3 linked regions of the Homo sapiens genome follow. The protein of the gene in region 1 purifies or fractionates together with the protein of each later gene. This does not show direct contact. Each region holds a gene or a part of one and is shown on either strand. Other genes may lie near its edges.

Region 1 (8,113 bases):
AGTAGAGACAGGGTTTCACTGTGTTAGCCAGGATGGTCTCGATCTCCTGACCTCGTGATCTGCCCGCCTCGGCCTCCCAAAGTGCTGGGATTACAGGCGTGAGCCACCGCGCCCGGCCAGCTAATTTTATCTTTTAAACTTTTCTTATAGAGACGGGGGTCTTGCTATGTTGCCCCGGCTGGCTTTGAACTCCTGGGCTCAAGCGATCTTCCTACCTCAGTCTCCCACAGTGCTGAGATTACCGGCATGAGCCACTGCAACCAGCTGACTTTCTGTTTTGTTTTGTTTTGAGACCGAGTCTTGCTCTGTTGCCCAGGCTGAGTGCAGTGGCTTGATCTTGGCTCACTGCAACCTCCGCCTCCCAGGTTCAAGCGATTCTCCTGCCTCAGCCTCGCGAGTAGCCAGGACTACACGCACCCGCCACCATGCCCAGCTAATTTTTGTAGTTTTTTAGTAGAGACAGGGTTTCACCACGTTGGCCAGGCTGGTCTCAAACTCCTGACCTCAAATGATCCACTTGCCTCAGCCTCCCAAAGTGCTGGGATTACAGGTATGAGCCACAGTGCCCGGAAGATTTTATGTTTTTTTGTTTGTTTGTTTGTTTTTGAGAAGGAGTCTCACACTGTCACCCAGGCTGGAGTGCAATGGCACAATCTTAGCTCATTGCAACCTCCCTCTCCCAGGTTCACACTATTCTCCTGCCTCAGCCTCCTGAGTAGCTAAGATTACAGGTGCACACCAACACACCCGGCTAATTTTTTGTATTTTTAGTAGAGATGGGGTTTCACTATGTTGGCCAGACTGGTCTCGAACTTCTGACCTCGTGATCCACCACCTCGGCCTCCCAAAGTGCTGGGATTACAGGCGTGAGCCACCGCGCTCAGCCTGATAGCCACTTTCTAGCACCGTTCGGTGTCAGGTTCAGTCATGTTTTTTGCTAAACCTGAAGCTTAAAAAAAAAAAGTTATCAGAGGAATTTTAAAGGCAGCAATTCATTGGTAAGATTGCTCAAAAGGGTAGAGTAGAAAAAATTCAACTTAGGACAACTTTATCTAATGATGTAGAGTACAGAGCACTTAATTTGGAGTTAGGAAAGGAAGTCTGGGTTCTAGTCCTAGCTCCATTACTAATTAAGACAACCAAAGGAAAACAATGAACTACTATTTCTCTTCCCATTTCCATAATTAAGATAACACTTAAACTACTTAACTCAGAGTCTGATTCTCAGGTTCCAATAAGGACGTATATGCAAAAGTAGTCAAGTCTTGTTACTTAAAATGTGACCTCCTCGCCAGAAGTATTTACATTTCTTGGGCCTCAGACTTACTGAATCCAAACAGTTTAGATATGGAGTTACCAAGGACCAAGTCCTAAATGAACGTTCTGCCACCTTCCCACTGTGTTATCTTGGCTATGTAACCTAATTTCTAAGTCTCAGTTTTTACATTTCTAAAATGGTAATAATAAAAGCCAATTTCAGAGTAGTTAAGTAAACTAAATAAAATAATTTTCATAAAAGCATCTAGAACAGTGCTTTGTGCATAGCTGAATTCAGTAAATATTTGTTTCTTACAAATGTGTTGGCCTATCACCTACCATCAAGTGTCAGAACTTCCTGGGAGTTGGATCCCAGGAAAGAGGCAGTCAAGCCTGAGGCAGAGGTGAATGGATAATTCCTTCCAGCTGTGGAATACAAAATAAAGTCCCAATTTTCTTTCTTTCTTTCTTTCTTTTTTTTTTTTAACAGGCATCAAGGAAAAGATACCAGTTTTCTTTTTAAGGGCTTCTTGACCAAGAAGGGAGGCATCTCAGGGAGAGGAAACAAATTTAACTAACCCTGATGGCCACCAGCAGAGCAAATGACTCTAGACAGGAGGTGCTTGAGGACTGTAACATCAAAGGCTACATTTCATTTCCTCTACCCCGTGGCTGCCAAAGAAAGCTGCTGAATGGCTCTGAACAGTACATTCAGGTTATGTTCATTGATGAGACAGGTAGATTACAAACCTCTGAATCATCCCTGAACTTCTACCTCCCAGATTCTCCCCTAATCCTGGAGGTGTGACAGTTGGGCTTTTGGCTTCTGGATGCATGCCACCTGTAGAGTCACCTTACTGGAACAGCAGCTCTCAGGAGAATCAGGCAGTCATCTCACTCAATAGGTCAGCTCCTTCATGGGGAGAGATGGAGAGGGCTACTTCCAAAGACAAGGGCCTGGCTCACAATGTCTGACAGCCAGTATTCTCTATAGGGTGGAGGTGGCGTTATCACAATCACGAAGAGGTTTTTCCCCCACAATCACTAAGAGCTCATTTGTTGCCACCCCTTACAAGAACTCCTCTAGTGAGTCAGCTATTATTGATAGAGGTGGGCTGTAGCCCTCAAATGTGGTAAGATGAAAAAATATAAAAATTAAAAGAGGCCAGGTATGGTGACTCACACCTTCCTTTGTTCTCCTCTGCCTTTGCCTCTTTAAAAAAGTTCTAAGTTGCAGCTGGGCACTGTGGCTCAAGCCTGTAATCCCAGCACTTTGGGAGGCCAAGGCAGGCAGATCACGGGGTCAGGAGATCAAGACCATCCTGGCTAACATGGTGAAACCCCGTCTCTATTAAAAAATACAAAAAATTAGCCAGGTGTGGTGGCAGGTGCCTGTAGTCCCAGCTACTCGGGAGGCTGAGGCAGGAGAAGCTCCGGGAGGCAAAGCCTGCAGCGAGCCGAGATTGTGCCACTGCACTCCAGCCTGGCTGACAGAGCAAGACTTGGTCTAAAAAAAAAAAAAAAAAAGTTCTAAGTTGCTAGCCAATCAGGACAAATACAAAATGTGAGGTCCCATTCCAGCCAATGGAAACTGGAACTGGACACAGCAGTAGGGTGGATGCATCAGGGTATAAATGACCCTGTCTCCTTTGCTCGGTGTACTCTCGTGGCAAAACTGCTGGCGTGTACCCTTTCTGCAGAAAGTATAAAAATGGCCTTGATGGCCTGGCGCGGTGGCTCACGCCTGTAATCCCAGCACTTTGGGAGGCCAAGGCAGGCGGATCATGATGTCAGGAGATCGAGACCATCCTGGCTAACAGGGTGAAACCCCATCTCTACTAAAAAAATACAAAAAAAAAAAAAAAAAAAAAAAATTAGCCGGGCGTCATGGCGGGCGCCTGTAGTCCCAGCTACTCAGGAGGCTGAGGCAGGAGAATGGCGTGAACCTGGGAGGCAGAGCTTGCAGTGAGCCGAGTTCGCACCACTGCACTCCAGCCTGGGCGACAGAGTGAGACTCTGTCTCAAAAAAAAAGGCCTTGCTGAGTAAATTAAATTAAATTAATTAAATTTATGTTCAAGTGCTATTTCTTTACAGCACCAGGGAACAAGCATTTCAAACAGGAGGCTGAGGCAGAAGAATCGCTTGAACCCAGGTGGCTGAAGCTGCAGTGAGCTGAGATTGTGCTACTGCACTCCAGCCTGGGCAACAGAGGAGACTCTGTCTCAAAAAACAAAACAAAACAAAAAAAGCCCACTTACTCAATATAGGTTATTTTCCTCTTACTCCTTAGCCTATTACCATCACTGTTCCACATCTAGCACCCTCACCCTACAGTCAAGAAGCCAAATTTTCTTTGATTCTCCATCCTAGGTACATCCAGACTCTCTCTGTCCTTCTGCATATCCAGGATATGTCCTACCACATATCCACATAACCAACATTAAAACCTTGGGGGAGGCTGGGCGCAGTGGCTCATGCCTATAATCCCAGCATTTCTGAATTAAAAAGCAAGACTCTGTCTCTACAAAAAATAATTTAAAAAATTAGAAAACAGGCTGGACACGGTGGCTCACGCCTGTAATCCCAACACCTTGGGAGGCCAAGGTGGGTGGATCACCTGATGTCAGGAGTTCAAGACCAGCCTGGCCAACATGGTGACACCCCATCTCTACTAAAAATACAAAAATTAGCCAGGCGTGGTGGCACATGCCTATAGTCCCAGCTACTCGGGAGGCTGAGGCAGAATCGCCTGGACCTGGGAGACGGAGGTTGCAGTGAGCTGAGATTGCGCCATTGCACTCCAGCCTGGGTGACAGAGCAAGACTCCGTCTCAAAATAATAATACTAAAAAAAATTAGAAAACAAAACAGAAAAACCTTGCGGAAGAAGCTCCTGATTTTAACAGGGACTTCGTCCTTCATCAACAAAAGATCAGAGCTTGCCAAGCCAGCAGGACTGGCTTAGCTGATGGAGCAAACACAATACACTAATAACCAGTAGGAAAAAATCCTGTACTACAGACACTTCCAATGCAGAAGGAACAACTTGCATTCAGAGAACACGAACACAAATAGGACAAAGGCTCCTCTCTCCCCAGAACCAGGTCAGAGAACTAAAGCCATTTAATGTGTGTGTTTCACAACGGTGATACTGGAAGTCGGTTTGGCACTACATGGTCAGGCCACTTAAAAGCCTGAGCAATCTACAGATTTCATACTTTGACCTCCTTCATACTTACAGACATTTCCTTAATAATTCTACCTAACTGTCATTTTCCAACAGTCTCTTCACGTGAATAGTCACCGATCACTGCTGGGTGCAGTGGCTCATGCCTGTAATCCCAGCACTTTGGGAGGCCAAGGTAGGCCGATCACCTGAGGTGAGGGGTTCAAGACCAGTCTGGCCAAGATGGTGAAACCCTGTCTCTACTAAAAATGCAAAAATTAGTCGGGCACGGTGGCGCACACCTGTAATCTCAGCTAACCGGGAAGCTGAGAAAGGACAATTGCTTGAACCCAGGAGGCAGAGGTTGCAGTGAGCCGAGATCATGCCACTGTACTCCAGCCTGGGCGACAGAGCAAGACTCTGTCTCAAAAAAAAAAAAAAAAAAAAAAAAGATGCACTGATCACTCAGTAAGGAGGACTGCAAAAGATACTCCTCCAGCTTCCATCTTCAGAAAGGAATCACAAGTCTATTTTTGTTTTTTGAGACAGAGTCTCTGTCACCCAGGCTGGAGTGCAGTGGTGCGATCTCGGCTCACTGAAACCTCCACCCCCTGGGTTCAAGCGATTCTCCTGCCTCAGCCTCCCGAGTAGCTGGGATTATAGGTGCCTGCCACCATGCCCAGCCAGGAATCACAAGTATTAAACTTTCCTTTCAGTAGGAACACTTACTGTTCTTTTGTTGAGACGAGTCTCACTCTATTGCCCAGGCTGGAGTGCAGTGGCATGATCTCAGCTCACAGCAACCTCTGCCACCCGGATTCAAGTGATTCTTGTGCCTCAGCTTCCCTAGTAGCTGGGATTACAGGCAGCTGCCACGATTGGCTGATTTTTGTATTTTTAGTAGAGACAGGGTTTCACCATGTTGGCCAGGCTGGTCTCGAACTCCTGACCTCAAGTGATCTGCCCACCTCAGTCTCCCAAAGGGCTGGGATTACAGGCGTGAGCCACTGTGCCTGGCCAACACTTATTGTACTTTAATTTAATGAACTTTTTTTTTTTTTTTAAGAGACAAGGTCTTGCTATGTTGCCAGGCTGATCTCAAACTACTGGGCTCAAGTGATCCTCCTACCTCAGCCTCCCAAAGTGCTGGAATTATAGACATAAGCCATCATGCCTAGCTAATAAATATTTCTTGGCCGGGCACGGTGGCTCATGCCTGTAATCCCAGCATTTTGGGAGGCTGAGGCGGGTGGATCACGAGGTCAGGAGTTCAAGACCATCCTGGCCAACATGGTGAAACCCCATCTCTACTAAAAATACAAAAATTAGCCCGGCGTGGTGGCATGTGCCTGTAGTCCCAGCTACTAGGGAGGCTGAGGCAGGAGAATAGCTTGAACCCGGGAGGCAGAGGTTGCAGTGAGCCGAGATCACACCACTGCACTCCAGCCTGGGTGACAGAGCGAGACTCCATCTCAAGGAAAAAAAAAAAATTCTTGAACACCTACTTATTATGTGTACACTAAGTATATACTAGTGAATAAAGAATATAGGATCTGTCATCATAATACTTTCTCAGGAATTAGAAACTATTCCCTTACTTCTGCTAGAAGTTCGTAGAAGTTTTATGGCTGGGCGCGGCAGCTCACGCCTGTAATCCCAGCACTGTGGGAGGTGGAGGCGGGCGGATCACGAGGTCAGGAGATCGAGACCATCCTGGCTAACACGGTGAAACCCTGTCTCTACTAAAAATACAAAAAATTAGCGGGGCGAGGTGGTGGGCGCCTACAGTCCCAGCTACTCAGGAGGCTGAGGCAGGAGAATGGCGTGAACCCCAGAGGCGGATCTTGCAGTGAGCCGGGATCGAGCCACCGCACTCTAGCCTAGGCGACAGAGCGAAACTGTCTCAAAAAAAAAAAAAAAAAAAAAAAAAAAAAAGAAGTTCTTACAAGTTTTAACTCCCTGACACTTTAGGGATTTACAAGAAACTTTTCCAGATCCCATCCTACTTTGCAGAATTGTAATCTGAAGGTAGGATCCAGGAAACTGCAACATAAGCAAGCATTACAGGTGACAATGCCCACTGTGAGTTTACAGACCTTTTAAAATAGCATCATGTTAAAAGAAATACAGAGGGCTGGGTGCAGTGGCTCACGCCTGTAATCTCAGCACTTTGGGAAGCTGAGACTGGTGGATTGCTTGAGCCCAGGAGTTCGAAACCAGCCTGGACAACATGGCAAAACACTGTCTCCAAAAAAACTACAAAAAAATTAGCCAGGCGTGGCTGTGCGTGCCTGTGGTCCCAGCTACTCGGGGGGATTGCTTGGGCCCATGAGGTTGAGGCTGTAGTAATAGCAAGCCATGTTCGCACCACTGCACTCCAGCCCCACCCCCCAAAAAAAACCCAAAACAGAGAACTAAGGAACTTGTGCAGTTGAAGCACAGTTGAAGCCAGAACTGAAAGATAATCAGATGCTAAGAAAGATCTATTGCTACAGTTGCCTCATTACGGTTTTAAATTTCACATCCTACTCTGTTGCATAAAGTATTGACACAGGGCAGAAAGAATCATTGTGTGGCTTTATTGAAATCCACCAAGTCTGGTTTCCCTTCTGCTGCCCCTTGGATTTTAAGTCAGGAATGCCAACTCTATCGCTGCTACCTACCATACTATTCTTGCTGCCTCCCCATGCATTCATTCACCTGCTACCAACCTAAAGGCCACTGGGAAGACCAAATGCAGTCATCTCACCACTAACACCCCATAAGGCTTCCCCTGCCATTCTAGTATCAAGGAATCACCGTTACTTTGGGTAGGCTGATAGTCAAAGTGAGGGCACAGAGATATGAGCCCTTACCTTTAAAAAATTTGGGCTTTAAAACCTAACTAAATATTTTGCAGGACAAAACCAACTCGGTTTTGTTGAACCCAATTTCTGAGTAGGACTTATACAGGTGATGTTGTACAGTGGTATAAGTCCAATGTAAAGAAACCATTGGTTCCTTTGCATTTAAGTGTCTTGAAAAAGTCTAGAAGTAATCTAGAAACATCTTTGAATTGATTTACTCAGTTTCAAACATACTAGCTTGGAGAAGCAATTTTCAGTGGCTCAAGAGACAGTTCCCTTTAGCTAGGGTTGGTTAAGCATGTTGACTTCAAAAGTCCAGAAGTGAACTGCAGCCCTACTTCAATTCCTAGCCCAAATCCAAACCCAGATCATCTGTGAAAAGACATTTTTGATGTCACAAAACTGAGTCACCCACAGATAATACTAAGGCCATTGCTTAGCATTAATGAATTTGGATAAACAAGAAGTCAAATAATCTCAAAGCTCTCTGAATTAGCTTCTAACTCAGGTGTTTTAAATTATGTGACATTTAAATTATGTGACAGTGAGAGTAGAACAATAGAACAATGACTAATTCACATGTTGTCTCCTAGTAAGGTTAAAAAAATTCGCCAGTCTGGCCAATATGGTGAAACCCCGTCTCTACCAAAAATACAAAAAATTAGCTGGGCGTGGTGGTGCACACCTGCTAACCCCAGCTACTCAGGAGGCTGAGTCACGAGAATCGCTTGAGCCTGGGAGGCAGAGGTTACAGTGAGCGGAGATTACGCCACTGCACTCCAGCCTGAGTGACAGAGTAAGACTCTGTCTCAAAACAAAAAAAAATTTCTTCTCAGAAAAGTAA
Region 2 (8,113 bases), on another chromosome or scaffold:
CTGGTACTTGTGAGTGTGAGCTTATTTGGGTCATTTCAGATGTATCAGGTTGTGATGAGGTCACACTGCATGGGGGTGGGGCCTAACTCCAGTATTCCTGGTATCCGTATAAGAAGAGGGAAATCTGGACACAGCCAGGACTCACATAGAGAAGAGCTTGCCATGTGACAAGAGACAGAGCCTGGAGGGTCTGCAAAGCATGAAACACCAAGGATGCCGGCTACTGCCAGAAGCTGGGGAGAGGTGCGGGATGGACTCTCCCTCGGCACCTCCAGTGGGAAGCACCGCTGCCCAGAACCTGGGACCTTTTTTTTTTTTTTTTTGAGACAGAGTCTCGCTGTCTCACCCAGCCTGAAGTGCAGAAGTGCGGTAGTGTGATCTTGGCTCACTACAGCCTCAACATCCTGGGCTCAAGTGATCTTCCCACCTCAGCCTCACAAGTAGCTGGGACTACAGGTGCACACCACTACACCTGGCTAGTTTTTGTGTTTTTTGCAGAGATGGAGTCTCACTTTCTTGCCCAGGCTGGTCTTAAACCCCTGGGCTCAAGCGATTCTCCTGCCTTGGCCTCCCAAAGTGCTGGGATTACAGGTGTGAGGTTGTGTGCCTGGCTCAGAACTGTGGACCTTTTTGAAACTGCCTAGTTTGTGGTGCTGTGTTTCAGTAGTCCTAGGAAACAAAATACACAGTCACATCAGTTTCTGGTTTATCCTTTTTGTGTTTCTTTTACACAAATGGTGAGAAACACTGATATGCTCTGTGGGCAGGTGTTGGCACTTGGACACTTCCCTCCTGTGCCCCCAGGGCTGGCTGTGCTTTGGAAGGAGGCACAGAGACTTCAGCACCCTGGTTTGATGTAGACTGTTCGCGAACTCCTCTAATGCCAAATACCATTTAATTCCAGAAGAAATGTCCCGGGATTTTTTTTTTTTTTTTAACTGTACGAATAAAGTGAACAATGCAATTACATGGGCCCAAATAACTGGATGTTTACATGGTTTGGAATTTGAATACTTTCTGAATTGTGGTAGATGTTTTTAAGGTATCTGCATAGAGATAAAGACAGGCTAGGGTTGGCCGGGCATGGTGGCTCACGCCTGTAATCCCAGCACTTTGGGAGGCCTAGGTGGGTGGATCACCTGAGGTCAATAGTTCGAGAGCAGCCTGACCAATAAGGTGAAACCTCGTCTCTACTAAAAATACAAAAATTAGGCATGGTGGCTGGTGCCTGTAGTCCCAGCTACTTTGGAGGCTGAGACAGGAGAATCGCTTGAACCCAGAAGATGGAGGTTGCAGTGAGCCGAGATCACTGCACTCCAGCCTGGGCGACAGAGCGAGACTCCATCTCAAAAAAAAACAAAAACAAAAGGCCAGGTTTGTGCTGTTTGTAAGTCCAGGAATAAGCCTAAAGAATAGGCAAGTTTTGGCTGGGCACGGTGGCTCATGCCTGTAATCCTAGCACTTTGGGAGGCTGAGGTGGGCAGATCGCCTGAGGTCAAGAGTTCGAGACCAGCCTGGCCAACATGGTGAAACCCTGTCTCTACTAAAACTACAAAAATTAGCTGGGTGTGGTGGCAGGCGCCTGTAAACCCAGCTACTCGGGAGGCTGAGGCAGGAGAATCGCTTGAACCCGGGAGGTGGAGGTTGCAATGAGCCGAGATTGCACCATTGCACTGCAGCCTGGGCAACAAGAGTGAGACTTCATCTCAAAAAAAAAAAAAAAAAAAAGGCAAGTTTTTGTACCTTTTAGGAGTATGAAAGTTGATATGTTAATTTTTTTTTTTTTTTGAGACAGAATGTTGCTCTGTCACCCAGCCTGTAGTGCAGCGGCACGATCTCGGCTCACTGCAACCTCCACTTCCCAAGTTCAAGCCATTCCCCTGCCTCAGTCTCCCGAGTAGCTGGGATTACAGGTGCCTGCCACCATGCCCGGCTAACTTTTGTATTTTTAGTACAGATGGGGTTTCTCCATGTTGGCCAGGCTGGTCTCGAACTCCTGACCTCATGTGATCCGCCTACCTCAGCCTCCCAAAGTGCTGGGTTTACGGGCGTGAGCCACCGCACCCCTGGCTGATATGCTGATTTTTAAAACCTTGATTCCTGGATATTCTGTTGTCTTTCCTTTCTACTTGTTACAAATTTGTGAAGAACAGGAGAGGCTCCCAGTTAGATGCGGTTCATTTAGGCTTAGACTTTGACACGGCGTGGCTGGCTGGCCACATATCCTTGACACCATCACGTATTGCAAATCTACTGACCAAGGCAGGGTCCTGGTATGTGGTCCCTGGGGTCAGTGGGTGTTGGTGTTGGGTCGGTCCAGTCCTGTGTTGGAGTGAAAGTGTCTGGTTTCTGGGCCTGCGTCGGTGAACTGCGTGCGGCTGGGGACACATTGGCTGCTTTCCTCCCTCGCTGGGCTCTGCCGGCAACTTTCTCAGCCCACTGGACTGAGCAGGAAGTTACAGAAGACAAGTCTCCTTCTTAGTTAGAAGGTAGAACCCATCGTCAGCTGTTTTTCAGTTTTTAAAGTACACAAATTTTTTTTAAAAAATCTGTTTTGGATGAAAAAGCAATGGGAAAGAATCAACTTTTAGAAGATGAGACAGTTTCAGAATATTAACATTTAAATATTTGGATCCCTTTTGGGAGGATTTTTTTTTTGCTTGACTGTCAAGAGCAAAGAAGTGTGGCCCATCGGGGGCTTCTGCAGGGGCTGCGAGGGTCGAGACAGGTTTCAGTTTGGTAGGTTGATGCGAGGTGTCACCCGTGAGGCGAATGTGGGAAGTGCTGTCAGCAGGCATCTGCCAGCTGGGCATGGTGGCTCACGCCTGTCATCCCAGCTCTTTGTAAGGCCAAGGCGGGAAGATGGTTTCAGCCCAGGAGTTCGAGACCAGTCTTGGCAACATAGCAAAACCCCATTTCTACAAAAAATTTTTTAAAAAATTATGGGGGCATGGTGGTCTGTGCCTGTGGTCCCAGCTACTCGTGAGGCGGAGGCAGGAGCATTGCCTGAGTCCAGGAGGTTGGGGCTGCAGTGAGCTGTGATCGCAGTGACAGAGCGAGACCCCCTCTGAAAAGAAGGCAGCAGCCCACCCCCTCCAGTTTCGCTTCTGCGGTTCTGAGAAGACACAGTATCTTACACTGATGACATCTGTGAGGGCTCCTTGCCAAAACCACACCCTGACACTGTGGCATTTGGTCCTGTGGATTTCTCTTTCAGCAACAGCCCGACTTAGAGATGTCCACGCTAGCTTCTGCTAGACACCCTTGATGGGACGAATTACCATATTGTTTCTCGTGTCTTCCTAATTCTCATTCTTTCTGCATATTTGTCTTTTCAGGAAAACCAATTCTGTGTCCTCGGAGGACCACAGCCCAGTTGGGCCCCAGGCGAAACCCAGCCTGGAGCTTGCAGGCAGGACGACTGTTCAGCACGCAGACCGCCGAGGACAAGGAGGAACCCCTGCACTCGATTATCAGCAGCACAGAGAGCGTGCAGGGTAGCCTTGGCTCGTGCTTTGGTCTGGGAGGGCTTTTTGGTTCACTGCTGTGCGTAAAGGGGCATTTTCAGGGTGGAGGCAGTGATTGGTAGAGCCACCGCCTTAGGTGTGAAATCAGAAGGTCTTGGCTGTAGGGAGTGCTGCGCCCTCCATTTCTGTCCCAGCGAGGGACTTCTGCCAGTGTCGGGTGTGTCTTGCCCCCTCTGGTGGCCACCCGTGAGTTTGCCGTCCGGCACCTCCCCTGAGTGGTGATTCATGGCACATCTGCTAATAATCATGGAAGCGGGAGGGGAAACTCAGCATTGGCCCAGTCTGCGCAGGACCGAATTCTGGAGCTGTCTTTTCATTCCCTCTGAAGTATAAAAAAGCAGTCTTTGGAGCCAGTCCTGAAGTGGCTCCATTTCTGGCTTTTAAGTGGGTCGACAAGAGTAGAATCTTTGAAGTTAAAAAGAGAAGTGAGGTTTTCTTGTTATTTTGATTTCTAACTAATTAATTTGGAAACCGCTTTTTTGAAGAATATAGTCCAGGCACAGTGGCTCACACTTGTAATCCCAGCACTTTGGGAGGCCGAGGCAGGAGGATTGCTTGAGGCCAAGTGGTCGAGACCAACCTGGGCAAGATAGACCCTTTCTCTACAGAAAAAAATTAAAAAGTTAGCCAGGCATGGTAGCACACACCAGTGGTTCCAGGTACTTGAGAGGCTGAGGCAGGAGAATCGGTTGAGCCCAGGAAGTTGAGGCTGCAGTGAGCACGATCCTGCCACTGCATAGCAGCCTGGGCAACAGAGCCAGATCCTGCCTCTAAAAAAAAAAGAAAGAACATATAATCTGGTTCTTAGAGGCAGTCCAGTTCTCGTAACCATGCACATTGGGAAACCAGGCTCAGCATTCCCTCGACATAGCCCGAGGCATGTCTGGCCTCAGCAGTGGGAGGATTTGTCCTGCCCTGAGACCTCCTTTCTGAGAGACTTTTTGTTTTGTTTTGTTTTGAGACAGGGTCTTTCTCTGTCACCCAGGCCGAGTGCTGTAGTGCAATCATGGCTCACTGAAGCCTCGACCTCCCTGGCTCAAGTGATCCTCCCACCTCAGCCCCCTGAGTCACTGGGACCACAAGTGTGTGCCACCACCGTCAGCTACTTTGTGTATTTTTTGTAGAGATGGCGGGATCCCTCTGTGTTGCCCAGGCTGGTCTTGAGCTCCTGGGCTTAAGTGATTCTCCTGCCTTGGCCTCCCAAAGTGCTGGGATTACAGGCATGAGCCATGGTGCCCAGCCAGACTTTGTTTCTGTCTGCTTCTTTCTTTTTGTTCATGATCTTAAATGTGTGGGAGGCCGAGGCGGGCCAATCATGAGGTCAGGAGATCGAGGCTATCCTGGCTAACATGGTAAAACCCCGTCTCTACTAAAACTACAAAAAATTAGCCGGGCGTGGTGGCAGGCACCTGTAGTCCCAGCTACTCGGGAGGCTGAGGCAAGAGAATGGCGTGAACCCGGGAGGCAGAGCTTGCAGTGAGCCGAGATCGTGCCACTGTACTCCAGCCTGGGTGACAGAGCGAGACTCCGTCTCAAAAAAAAAAAAAAAAAAAAGTTTAAAACTCATAAACTTAAGCTTTCTTTGGAATGTGACGTAGCGTATTCTTGCACAAAAATAGAAGTTAAACTTTGTTGGTTGTGTCTGTGTTTCATTACTAGGTTCCACTTCCAAACATGAGTTCCAGGCCGAGACAAAGAAGCTTTTGGACATTGTTGCCCGGTCCCTGTACTCAGAAAAAGAGGTGCGTTCCCTGCTAACCATGCCCGATGCTAGCAAAGTTTCTTTTCACAAAGCTGGTTTTTATGCCATTCTGGAGAATTGCCAGATAATATATTAGCTGTGAGAAAGCATTAAACTTTGGACAGGTCCTCATCTTAAGCTACCAGTGAGAGGAGTTTTACCAGAATCTGTTTTGGTTTCCTGGATAAGTGTATCCAGATGGTTCTTTGGGCTGGATCAACTCTGGGAATTAATTGAATTTTGCCAATAATTTTAAAAGTTCCCGAAATACAGGCCTGGTGTGGTGGCTCATGCCTGGGAACTCAGTGCTTTGGGAGGTCGAGGCAGGAGGATCACTTGAGCCCAGGAGTTTGAGACCAGCCTGGTCAACACAGCAAGACTCCGTCTCTACAAAAAATTTAAAAAATTAGCCAGCTATGGGGGCACTGACCTGTGGTCCCAGCTACTCAGGAGGCTGGGGTGGGAGGATGACTTGAGCCTGGCAGACTTTGGGGCTGCAGTGAGCCATGATTGTGTTACTACACTGACCTGCACAACAGAGTAAGACCCTCTCTCCAAAAAAAAAGTCCCCCAAATCCTAGCGTGCAGCTCTGCTGAATTCCGTCTCTGTGGAGCTTTGGATACGCTCTGAGGCCCCTTTGCCTGGTGGGACTACCTGCAGGTCTTGGCGGCTTTGGCTGCCGGAGGAAGAAGGTTCCCCAGTCCTGTGTGTATGGAGCAGGGAGGAGTTACTGAGGAAATTAAAACGCATTTGGGGCCAGGTGCGGTGACCCACACCTGTAATCCCGGCACTTTAGGAGGCCAAGGTAGGAGGATTGTGTGAGTCCAGGAGTCTGAGACCAGCCTAGGCAACGTGAAGAGACCCCATCTCTATTAAAAAAAACCCCGCAAAACTCATTTGGGGTGACAGGACAAGGAAAAAGAAAGATGAAGGCCACCATCGTTGACATGCTGATTATTGCTGGAAGGCAAAGGAGAGTCCTGAAGAAAGTTTGTAAAGCAGCAGATTTCAAAGCTCAGAGGGCCTTCTAGGAGCTGTTTCCGGGTTTCGTACTGATGAGTGCTGCATTCCTGACTCCCAGTGACCTCCAGCTTCCGCCCAGATCAGCCACCGCTTCCTCTTCACCTATGTGCTCTTGCGGACTTAATTTTTCTATTTTTAATTGTGTGGGTTTTTGTTTTTTTTTTTTTTGGTTTTTTAATTTTTTGGAACAGGGTCTGGGTCTGACGCCCAGGCTGGAGTGCAGTGGTATGATCTCGGCTCGCTGCAACCTCCGCCTCCTGAGCTCAAGCCATCCTTCCTCCTCAGCCTCTGGCTGATATTTGTATTTTTTTGTAGAGACGGAGTTTTGCCGTGTTGCCCAGGCTGGTCTTGAACTCCTGGGCTGAGGTGATCTGCCTGTTTCAGCCTCCCAAAGTGCTGAGATCACAGGTGTGAGCCACCACACCCGGCCTCTCTCACTGATTTTAAATGGAAGGTCTGTTTGAGGTCAGTGTGCTTTTCAGCTCCTGAGGGACAGCTGGGCCCTGAGGCCTGTTTTTCTCCGGGTGTGGTAGACCTGGTGTTTGGTGGTCCCCACTAGATGAGATGAAGCTAGGGAACCTGTTTTTGTGGAGTAGGAGTGTATTAGTCCATTTTCACGTTGCTGATAAAGACATACCTGAGACTGGGCAATTTACCAAAGAAGGAGCTTTAATTGGACTTACACCTCCATGTGGCTGGGGAAGTCTCACAGTCATGGTGGAAGGCAAGGAGGAACAAGTCCCGTCTTACATGGATGACAGCAGGCAAAGAGAGAATGAGCAAGACACAAAAGCAGAAACCCCAAAAAACTGTCAGATCTCATGAGACTTACTCACTACCACGAGAACAGTACTGGGGAAACGGCCCCCATGATTCACTTATCTCCCACCAGGTCCTTCCCACAACACGTGGGAATTATGGGAGTACAATTCAAGGTGAGATTTTCGTGGGGACACAGCCAAACCATATCAAGGAGAAATGGATGTTTGAGTGATATGCCGTCATCCCTGTGCAGGAGTTGGGAAAGAAATTGTTCCTCGCAGGCCTCTTTTGTTTGTTTTTTTGAGACAGAGTCTCTCTCTGTCGGGGCTGGAGTGCAGTGGTGCCATCTCGGCTCACTGCAACCTCCGCCTTGTGGGTTGAAGCGATTCTCCTGCCTCAGCCTCCTGAGTAGCTGGGATTACAGGTGTGTTCCATCACGCCCAGCTAATTTTAATATTTTTAGTAGAGACTGGGTTTTGCCATGTTGGCCATGCTGGTCTTGAGCTCCTGACCTCAAGTGATCCACCTGCTTCAGCCTCCCAAAGTGCCTGGATTACAAGCATGAGCCCCCAACCCCAGCCAGAGGGCTCTTCTTAAAGTTATAATTAACAGATGGACACGTAACTTCAGGCTTGATTAAAAATCCTGAAAAGGGCCAGGCACCGTGGCTCACGTCTGTAATCCCAACACTTTGGGAGGCGGAGGCACAACGATCACTTGAGCCTGGGAGATCAAGACCAGCCTGGGCAACATAGCGAGACCCTGTGTCTATAAAAATTTTAAAACAATTAGCTGGGTGTGGTGCATGCCTGTGGGCCCAGCTACTTAGGAGGCTGAGGTGGGAGGATTGCTTGGGTCCAGGAGGTTAAAGCTGCAATAAGCCGTGATTGCAGCCTCCAGCCTGAGTGACAGAGTGAGACTCTCAAAGAAATCCTGAAAGGAAAGTCAGCACCTTCAGTCACTTTGTGACCGGCCCAGAGGAACTGCCTTTGACTAAAGCAGAAACTCTTTATGCTTTGAGAATTGACTATTCTCCTCTACCTTTTAACAGTTATTGGA
Region 3 (8,113 bases), on another chromosome or scaffold:
GTCCTCAAAATATTTCAGTCAACCCCCTAAGAGTCATCTATCAGTTTTAAAATTTGTCATAGAAAAGATGAACAATCCCCTCAAACAAGACCATGCTATCTTCCCTTAAAGTAATAAAAAATGGCAGACATAAGTATTTAAGGTGGTCCAGTTGGGACCACGGCTCTAAAGATGATTTTATTATATAGCTAAATAGTTTATTCTCTATAATTCCAGAATTATTTCCACAGCCCATTTCAGAACTACTAGTAGCAGAGGCATACTTCCCATTTTTATTTACAAGGCACGTTTGGAGCCCTGTGTTGTGATGCTCACTGATCAATGTTACCAGAATTGCTCATAGTCTGGAAGAAACATCAAAGCCCCAAGGAAAGTGAGGATAGCACCACACTCATTCAATCCTAAATTATGCCCAAGCATTAAGAAAATGAAAAGAAACACTGTGATTGGATATGGCCATCCCCGAATATGTCACTGTTCCTACAATCTGGGGTACGGCCTGCCTTTCAAAGGCAAAGGACAGTAACATCTGTTTCAGTGTCTATGATGTACTGGGCCATGGACATCAACCTGTATTGTCTCATTTAATCTTCACGGCATCCTTCCTGTGAACGAGGTGCTATTATACCCCTTTTATGGATGAGACAACTAAAGCCTAGTCCAACTTTTAACGTGCTATTAAAAGTTAGGACAAGTTTTAAAATCAGGTCTTCTATTTCTGAAGACTGTGTACTTCCTCCTATCAAGAGCCTGAGTTTAGAAACTGGTTCTTATTCTCCTCTTGGAACCCTAGCTTCTGGAACTCAGAAGGGGCTCAGTAGTATTTGGGGAACCATCACCTGGTGTGGTCTGAAAGCTCACCCAGAAGGTCACCCTTGCTTACGTAGGGCCAACTTTCCCACCTTCTCAACCCCTCAGACTGAGAAAAAAGTGGGGTAGAATGCTGCTATTAAGCATCTAGGAAAAGTATTCCCCAAGTGGTAATTATGAACGTTATGTTTAAATTGTAGAACTTGACGTATCTGATGTATCTATCCTCTGTGATTCCTCATTTACAGTAAGGGGGTACTCGCTTCACTGCCAGTGCCTCCCCCAACCCCCCACCCTAGAAGCTCTGCTTTTCAGGTAAAGTGTTTGCTAAACTGAATAGATAGACCAAAAACCATGAAAACACTATAATGCCAGCTTTGAAAAAAAACTCTTAGCAATAGACCTGTGGACTATTTTTAGACCTACATACAAAAGGGAACATGATTTCTGCCAAAGTAAAGGCTCAACATGACCAGGGCAAGAATAAAACCAAAGGATAAAAAATGATCTAAATTTTCATCTTAAAAGAGGTAGAGTCTGACTTTAAGATTCAGAAATTAATTTTTTTTAAAAAGGGGTAGAGTCAGGATGAATTACTAGGAAGAGAACATTTGGATGCAAGATTATGAACATTGGGATTTGGCAATAAGACAACACTTGTTTGTCATCCCTTTAGGAATCTATTCCCAGCCCTCCAGGGCTGGTGGTGTCACAGCCTGTATTAAAGAGGCTTTCAAGAAACTCCCTCCAGCCTTTACAGCTCTTCCAAGCAAATGGAATTGTCCCCAAGTACCAATGCTCAAAAGGGCCAAGAAACTTGCCCACGGCTAACTGACTAGTAAGTGGCACAGCTGGGAGTTCCACCTGAGCCTGGCCTTAAAGCGCTGGCTTCACACTGTGTCACTTGTTAAATGAGAATCCTGCTACTCTGGTAAAATGTTTTTATTTCCTTATGACATCAAGTATAAAAAGTTCCAGAAGAAAAAAAAAAAAAAAGTAAAGCTCTGAAAGCTCAGAGGGTATTAGATACATTACAATTAGTTTAAAAAAGTAAAAGAAAGCTATTGACTTGGGGATTTATCACTAATCTTTTCAGATCTGTATCAAATGGTAATTGTAACAGAAACAATCTCTTAACATCATTTATTTTATTTTATTTTATTTTTTAAGAGGGAGTCTCGCTCTGTCACCAAGCTGGAGTGCAGTGGCATGATCTCGGCTCACTACAACCTCCACCTCTGGGGTTTAAGCAATTCTCCTGCCTCAGCCTCCCGAGTAGCTGGAATTACAGGCACGTGCCACACACCCAACTAATTTTTGTATTTTTAGTAGAGACAAGGTTTCACCATGTTGGCCAGGATGGTCTCGATCTCCTGACCTCATAATCCATCTGCCTCGGACTCCCAAAGTGCTGGGATTACAGGTGTGAGCCACCGCTCCTGGCTCTTAACATCATTTTTAGATGTCACTCTAGATGAGCTGATCTGGCGCACTTGTTATTTCTGCTTAAAGGTACAGCCCAGGCTGGGCACAGTGGCTCACTTCTGTAATCTTGTAATCCCAGCACTTTGGGAGGCTGAGACAGGTGAATCACCTTGGTCAGGAGTTTGAGACCAGCCCGGCCAACATGGTTAAACCCCATCTCTACTAAAATATAAAAATTAGGCCAGGCACAGTGACTCATGCCTGTAACCCCAGCACTTTGGGAGGCTGAGGCGGGTGGATCACCTGAGTTCAGGAGTTCGAAACCAGCCTGGCTAACATGGCAAAAACCCCGTCTCTACTAAAAATACAAAAATTCGCCAGGACTGGTGGTGCGTACCTGTAACCCCAGCTACTTGGGAGGCTGAGGCAGGAGAATCACTTGAACTCAGGAGGCCAAGATCACGCCACTGCACTCCAGCCTGGATGACAGAGTGACACTCCGTCTCAAAAAAAAAGTACAGCTTGGAATGTTTTAAAACGACAAACCTAATATTCAAAACATTTTACAACTGCAGAACAATTCCTCTGGTGAAAGATCTTTGAATGCCAATGGACCAAGCCAAATTTTAGCAAAATAATGCCACAAGTATAGTGTGTGAAATCCATGCAACGAACAAGACTTCCTTCAAACAAAATCAAGGCAAGTGCGCGGTCTGACCTGTTAAGGTGGCGGCATTGAGGATGACCTTCGGGTTAAACGTGTGTGCGTAACAGAGCGCATCAGCCAGTATGAGCCTCCCCTCAGCATCAGTGTTATCAACCTGCAGAGGGTCAAAAACAGAAAGGGTGACAGCGCAAGTAAAGAATATGAAAACTAGACACTTGCAACAGTGTTCGACGGAAAAGTTGGAAAAAGCTACTGTGACGTGTGTCATTATCAAACCATTCATACTTCAATGAGAATAGGAACATATCTAATCTGGAGAGCAAATATGATTTAATAATCCCCCAGCACCTTGGGAGGTAGAGGTGGGCAGACAGCTTGAGCCCAGGAGCTCGACACCAGCCTAGGCAAGATGGTGAAACCCCATTTCTAATTAAAAATAAAAAAATAATAATATAATAATCACTGTACCAGAGCTGATGACCTAATGTTGATGACTTTGGAAGCCAAAATAAATAGAAAAATGTCTAGTCCATTTTACCCGTAACTTTGTAACAAGAAGGGGAAAAATGTAAAGATTTCCAAAAATGAGGTTAAAGAGCTTTAAGAAAGCTACAGCTACATGGCAGTCTCAATCCTAGAAATGAAAACTCTTGCAACTTCAGTAACACTTCCTAACTATATTCCTTTCTTTTAAATAGAGGTCCAGTCGTTTTCTGAGTGGCTTGTACACACCTGCATGCACGTGCCACCCAGAGGACCTGCTGCCACATCCCCTTCAGTGCAGGGCCCATGATGTAGGACAGTATGTTCTACCTCAACACCTACAATGGAAAAAAGTCACTCATAGCACAGGTATATCCAGAAGATAGCCCACAATTTTACTGCTTTGCCGCCCTCTGCAGGGCTGGCAGCAAATTCATGGAAACGTGTGTATACACATGTATAGCATACAGGAAATGGGAGGAACAATAAGTCTGGAAAAACATTCTTCAAAATCCCCCAAAAAAGATACTTCTGCCTTTGCAAGAAAAGCTACTCAGGGGCCGGGAATGGTGGCTCGCGCCTGTAATCCTAGCACTTTGGGAGAACAAGGTGGGCAGATCACTTGAGTCTAGGAGTTTGGGACCAGCCTGGGAAACATGGCAAAACCCTGTGTCTACAAAAAGCTAGCCAGGCATGGTGGCACGCACCTGTGGTCCCAGCTACTCAGGTCGCTAAGGTGTGAGGACCACCTGAGCCTGGGGAGGTCAAGGCTGCAGTGAGACATGATCACGCCACTGCACTACAGCCTGGGTGATGCAGCGAGACCCCATTTCAGGAAAGGGAAGGAAAAGAAAGGCTACCCAGCACTAAAGACAGCACCCTCCCCTAATATGGTTCTGGGGCTCTGCACGCATCCTAGCTGTGGTTATGTGGCCACCACGGGATTCCTGAGGAACGCTGGATGGGGAGTGCTGTGTCTCACATTTACAAACCTGGATGGTCTTCCCGTTTTTGGCTCTAACAACATCCCCCGGCTTGTTGGCCTTGCCGCTGGGCATATTTTCACAAAGAGGGGCCAGACCTATTGGAAATAATATATGAAGGCACACAGTATATACTGGGTCCAAACATGCCACCTATGGGACAAGAGGCCACCTGTGAGCCATGAGAAGCAAGACACAAAGGCCACCTTAACGAACTGATCAAATTTAACATCACCAATGACACAACTGACATGATGTGTCAGCAACAAGAAGTACACATCACCCATGTAGCATTCTTCCCAAAGAAGTCTAACTTGATTCTAATCAAGAAGAAGCAATTCAAATAAATACAAATTGCAGAATATCATGAAACAAGCCTAGACCCTTCAAAACTGCTAATGCCGTGGAAGAAAACAGGAATAGGGTCTAGAATCAAGAAATCTAAAGGGGCACCAACAGCAATGTGTGGTCCTTGATTAGTTTCTGGATTTAAAAGCTAAATATAGGCCAGGCGCGGTGGCTCATGCCTGTAATCCCAGCATTTTGAGAGGCCAAGGCGGGCAGATCACCTGAGGTCAGGAGTTCAAGACCAGCCTGATCAACATGGAGAAACCCCGTCTCTACTAAAAATACAAAATTAACCAGGCATGGTGGCGCATGCCTGTAATCCCAGCTACTCAAGAGGCTGAGGCAGAAGAATCACTTGAACCCGGGAGGTGGAGGTTGTGGTGAGCCAAGATCGCGCCATTGCACTCCAGCCTGGGCAACAAGAGCGAAACTCCATCTCAAAAAAAACCAAAAAACCAAAAAAACCTAAATATAAATAAATAAAATGGACATTTTTTACACAACTGGAAACTTGAATTAGGTTACTGAATTAATCCTCGGAAAAGATAATGGTTTTGTCATTACATAGAATGTCCTTTTTCTTAGAGGACGTGTCGTGATGTCTGCAACTGACTTTTAAATAGTTCAGGAAAAAAAAGGACTATGATAGTGAAGGAGGGGGGCATGTCTGAGACCTGGATTCCAATTCTACCTTCCTTGTGCAATGGACAAGAGTCAGGGCATTATTATTTAACCTAAGACTCTCTCCTCCTTCCCCGTCTCCTCTGAAATGAGTATGAGCAATGCTATTATACAAACTCCCAGTACTGTGCCTGGGAGTTTGTATCTTCCATTACTAAGAACTGCCACATAATGAGCACTTTTTCTGTTCTAGGCACTTTCTGTGTGTTGTGCCATTTCACCGGCCACAATCCTACGAAGCAATCAGTCAATGAGCCAGCAACGTCCTGCCACCCCAAGTACCCAGCAAGTTTCATAATGTCAACTACAAACTTGACATTATGTGCCCCTGACTGCTAGCCACTTTTTGCAGAAGTGAAACAAATCAATTCCAGTTACAGCCCACTGGTTGCAAGATACATTTAGCTCAATCAGCTCAGACAGTAAAACACTTATCTGGGCTAAATAGCTACTGCTTGATGACTATTTAAAAATCATTTCTTATCTTTTCAGATTAGGGGAAATCATATCTGTTGTCTCTCTTCTCCCACCTGGCTAGAATCCAGAAGCGTTATGAGATGTAATCCGTTACCCCACTTACCTATAATATTAATGGGCAAATTAAGCTTTGCAGCAGACACGATGGCTGAGCATATAGTTGCAGCTCCTCCCATGTCAGCCCTCATGAGGTCCATATTTGCAGAAGCCTTGATGGAGATACCACCACTATGGGGAAATGGACAACGTGCAATATTAAGAGCAAAGAAGATGGCCAAAATCACTTTATTTAAAAAGTACAGATGGGCACGGTGGCTCACGCCTGTAATCCCAGCACTTTGGGAGGCCGAGGTGGGCGGATCACGAGGTCAGGAGATCGAGACCATCCTGGCTAACACGGTGCAACCCATCTCTACTATAAATACAAAAAAATTAGCCGGGTGTGGTGGTGGGCGCCTGTAGTCCCAGCTGCCACCATGCCTGGCTAATTTTTTTGTGATTTTAGTAGAGATGGGGTTTCACCTTGTTAGCCAGGATGGTCTCGATCTCCTGACCTCGTGATCCGCCAGCCTCGGCCTCCCAAAGTGCTGGGATTACAGGCATTAGCCATCGCGCCCAGCCTTTAGCTCATTTTATTTCTACTTGAATGAAATTTAAACAGTGCCACTGGAAACATTACTATATCATAAAATCAAGACTGTGCAAATTCCATCTCTGTATTGTCTGATTAACTCCTGACACCCACATAGTCTATTCAGCAAATTTTATGAATTGATCAACTTATGGAACGTGAAGGTCATGAGCTGTTAAGAAAAGCTGATGAGCTCACAGAGATGACTGGAGGCATTTCTCTGAAACCGACAGGACAGAGGGCTAACATTTCCTTCCAACACTGCACAAGGTGTGCTATATCCTGCTGATGGCAAAATACAACCTAAATGAGGCACAGGCCCAATGGCTGAGAGACAGTACTTCAACATGAGAACTGAATAAGGCTGCAATTAGCAAGAAACCAAACTACCTGACCCCCAGAGGCTTCTAACTAGCTAGTGGTTTTTCTGCTTCCAGTCCGTAGGAGTCCAGAAGCAACATGCTTCACAGGCCAAGCACAGAGCCAGGGGCTTCGACTCTAAGTTCTAATTGAGATCTGCTGCTCATGTGCCCTGGTGGCTCACTGGAGAGAGGTCTGCCTGCTGCTCTGAAGTCTGCTTTCCTTCAAAATTAAATCCTAATTCTCACTTACCTCAGAAGCACTTGTTACTTAGATGGTTGGCATGTTCACCAAGAATTAAAGATGATCCCCTGGCTCAAAGAAGAAAAATAACATGGGTAAACCCCATGGACAAAGGGAACACGCTGTTGTATTTGAAGTTTTTCTTCTGTCCACCTGCCACATTTATCTGCAGGCCTCTTCTGGAAGTTCTGCTCTCTAATTCCTATGACTATGGTTCTAAGGTAGCCACCAGTTAAAGATCAGCAATCAGCTTTGGCTCACTTTTTCAATCTCTCTCAAATCCACCCACTTATTTTCTACTCAGCCGCCCTCATTGATGCTACTACCCTCTGTCATTTGGATGTTTGTCAGGTCTCCTTAACGGGTCTTTCTGTATCAGTCTCACCACTGTCATTTCATTAACCATAAAAACAGCACATTTTTACACACACACAAAATCTATCTCAATCAAAATCTCAGTAGGTTTTGTTGTGTGAAAAAACAAGCAGATTCACCGAGTGTGGTGGCTCACGCCTGTAATCCCAGCACTTAGGGAGGCTGAGGCAGGCAAATCACTTGAGCCCAGGAGTTCGAGACCAGCTTGGGCAACACGGCAAAACCCCATCTCTATAAAAAATACAAAAATTAGCTGGGCATAGTGGTTCGCATCTGTAGTCCCAGCTACTCGGGAGGTTGAGGTGAGAGGATCACCTGAGCCCAGGGAGGTCGAGGCTGCAGTGGGCCAAGATTGCACCACTGCACTCCAGCCTGGGCAACAGAGTGAGACACTGTCTCAAAAAAAAAAAAAAAAAAAACCCAAGCAGATTCTAAAATGTATATGAAGATGCAAAGGATGTAGCCAAAGTCATTCTGAAAAAGAAGAGCAAAGCTGGAGGACTCATGTGACTAGATTTCAAGCCTACTCAAAGCTGCAGTAATCAAGATATTTGGTCTTCAGGCACTGGTGAAAGGATACAGAGCCCAGAGGCAGACCTACAATTATATGGACAACTGATTTCCACCCGA

The links. The genes of interacting proteins can lie anywhere in the genome.
Region 2: the proteins of CS (region 1) and TRAP1 purify together in Homo sapiens (affinity purification with mass spectrometry; 2 studies listed by BioGRID, with this or other methods). This does not show direct contact.
Region 3: the proteins of CS (region 1) and LAP3 fractionate together in Homo sapiens (co-fractionation; 2 studies listed by BioGRID). This does not show direct contact.

The regions. Positions count from the first base shown.
Region 1 is NC_000012.12:56,289,624-56,297,736, forward strand, and holds part of CS (citrate synthase, mitochondrial precursor), read right to left. Parts: intron 1-8,113. UniProt on the Homo sapiens protein: Key enzyme of the Krebs tricarboxylic acid cycle which catalyzes the synthesis of citrate from acetyl coenzyme A and oxaloacetate.
Region 2 is NC_000016.10:3,686,211-3,694,323, reverse strand, and holds part of TRAP1 (heat shock protein 75 kDa, mitochondrial isoform 1 precursor), read left to right. Parts: intron 1-3,338; coding exon 3,339-3,497; intron 3,498-5,186; coding exon 5,187-5,269; intron 5,270-8,113.
Region 3 is NC_000004.12:17,593,399-17,601,511, reverse strand, and holds part of LAP3 (cytosol aminopeptidase), read right to left. Parts: intron 6,103-8,113; coding exon 5,978-6,102; intron 4,467-5,977; coding exon 4,378-4,466; intron 3,057-4,377; coding exon 2,954-3,056; intron 1-2,953. UniProt on the Homo sapiens protein: Cytosolic metallopeptidase that catalyzes the removal of unsubstituted N-terminal hydrophobic amino acids from various peptides.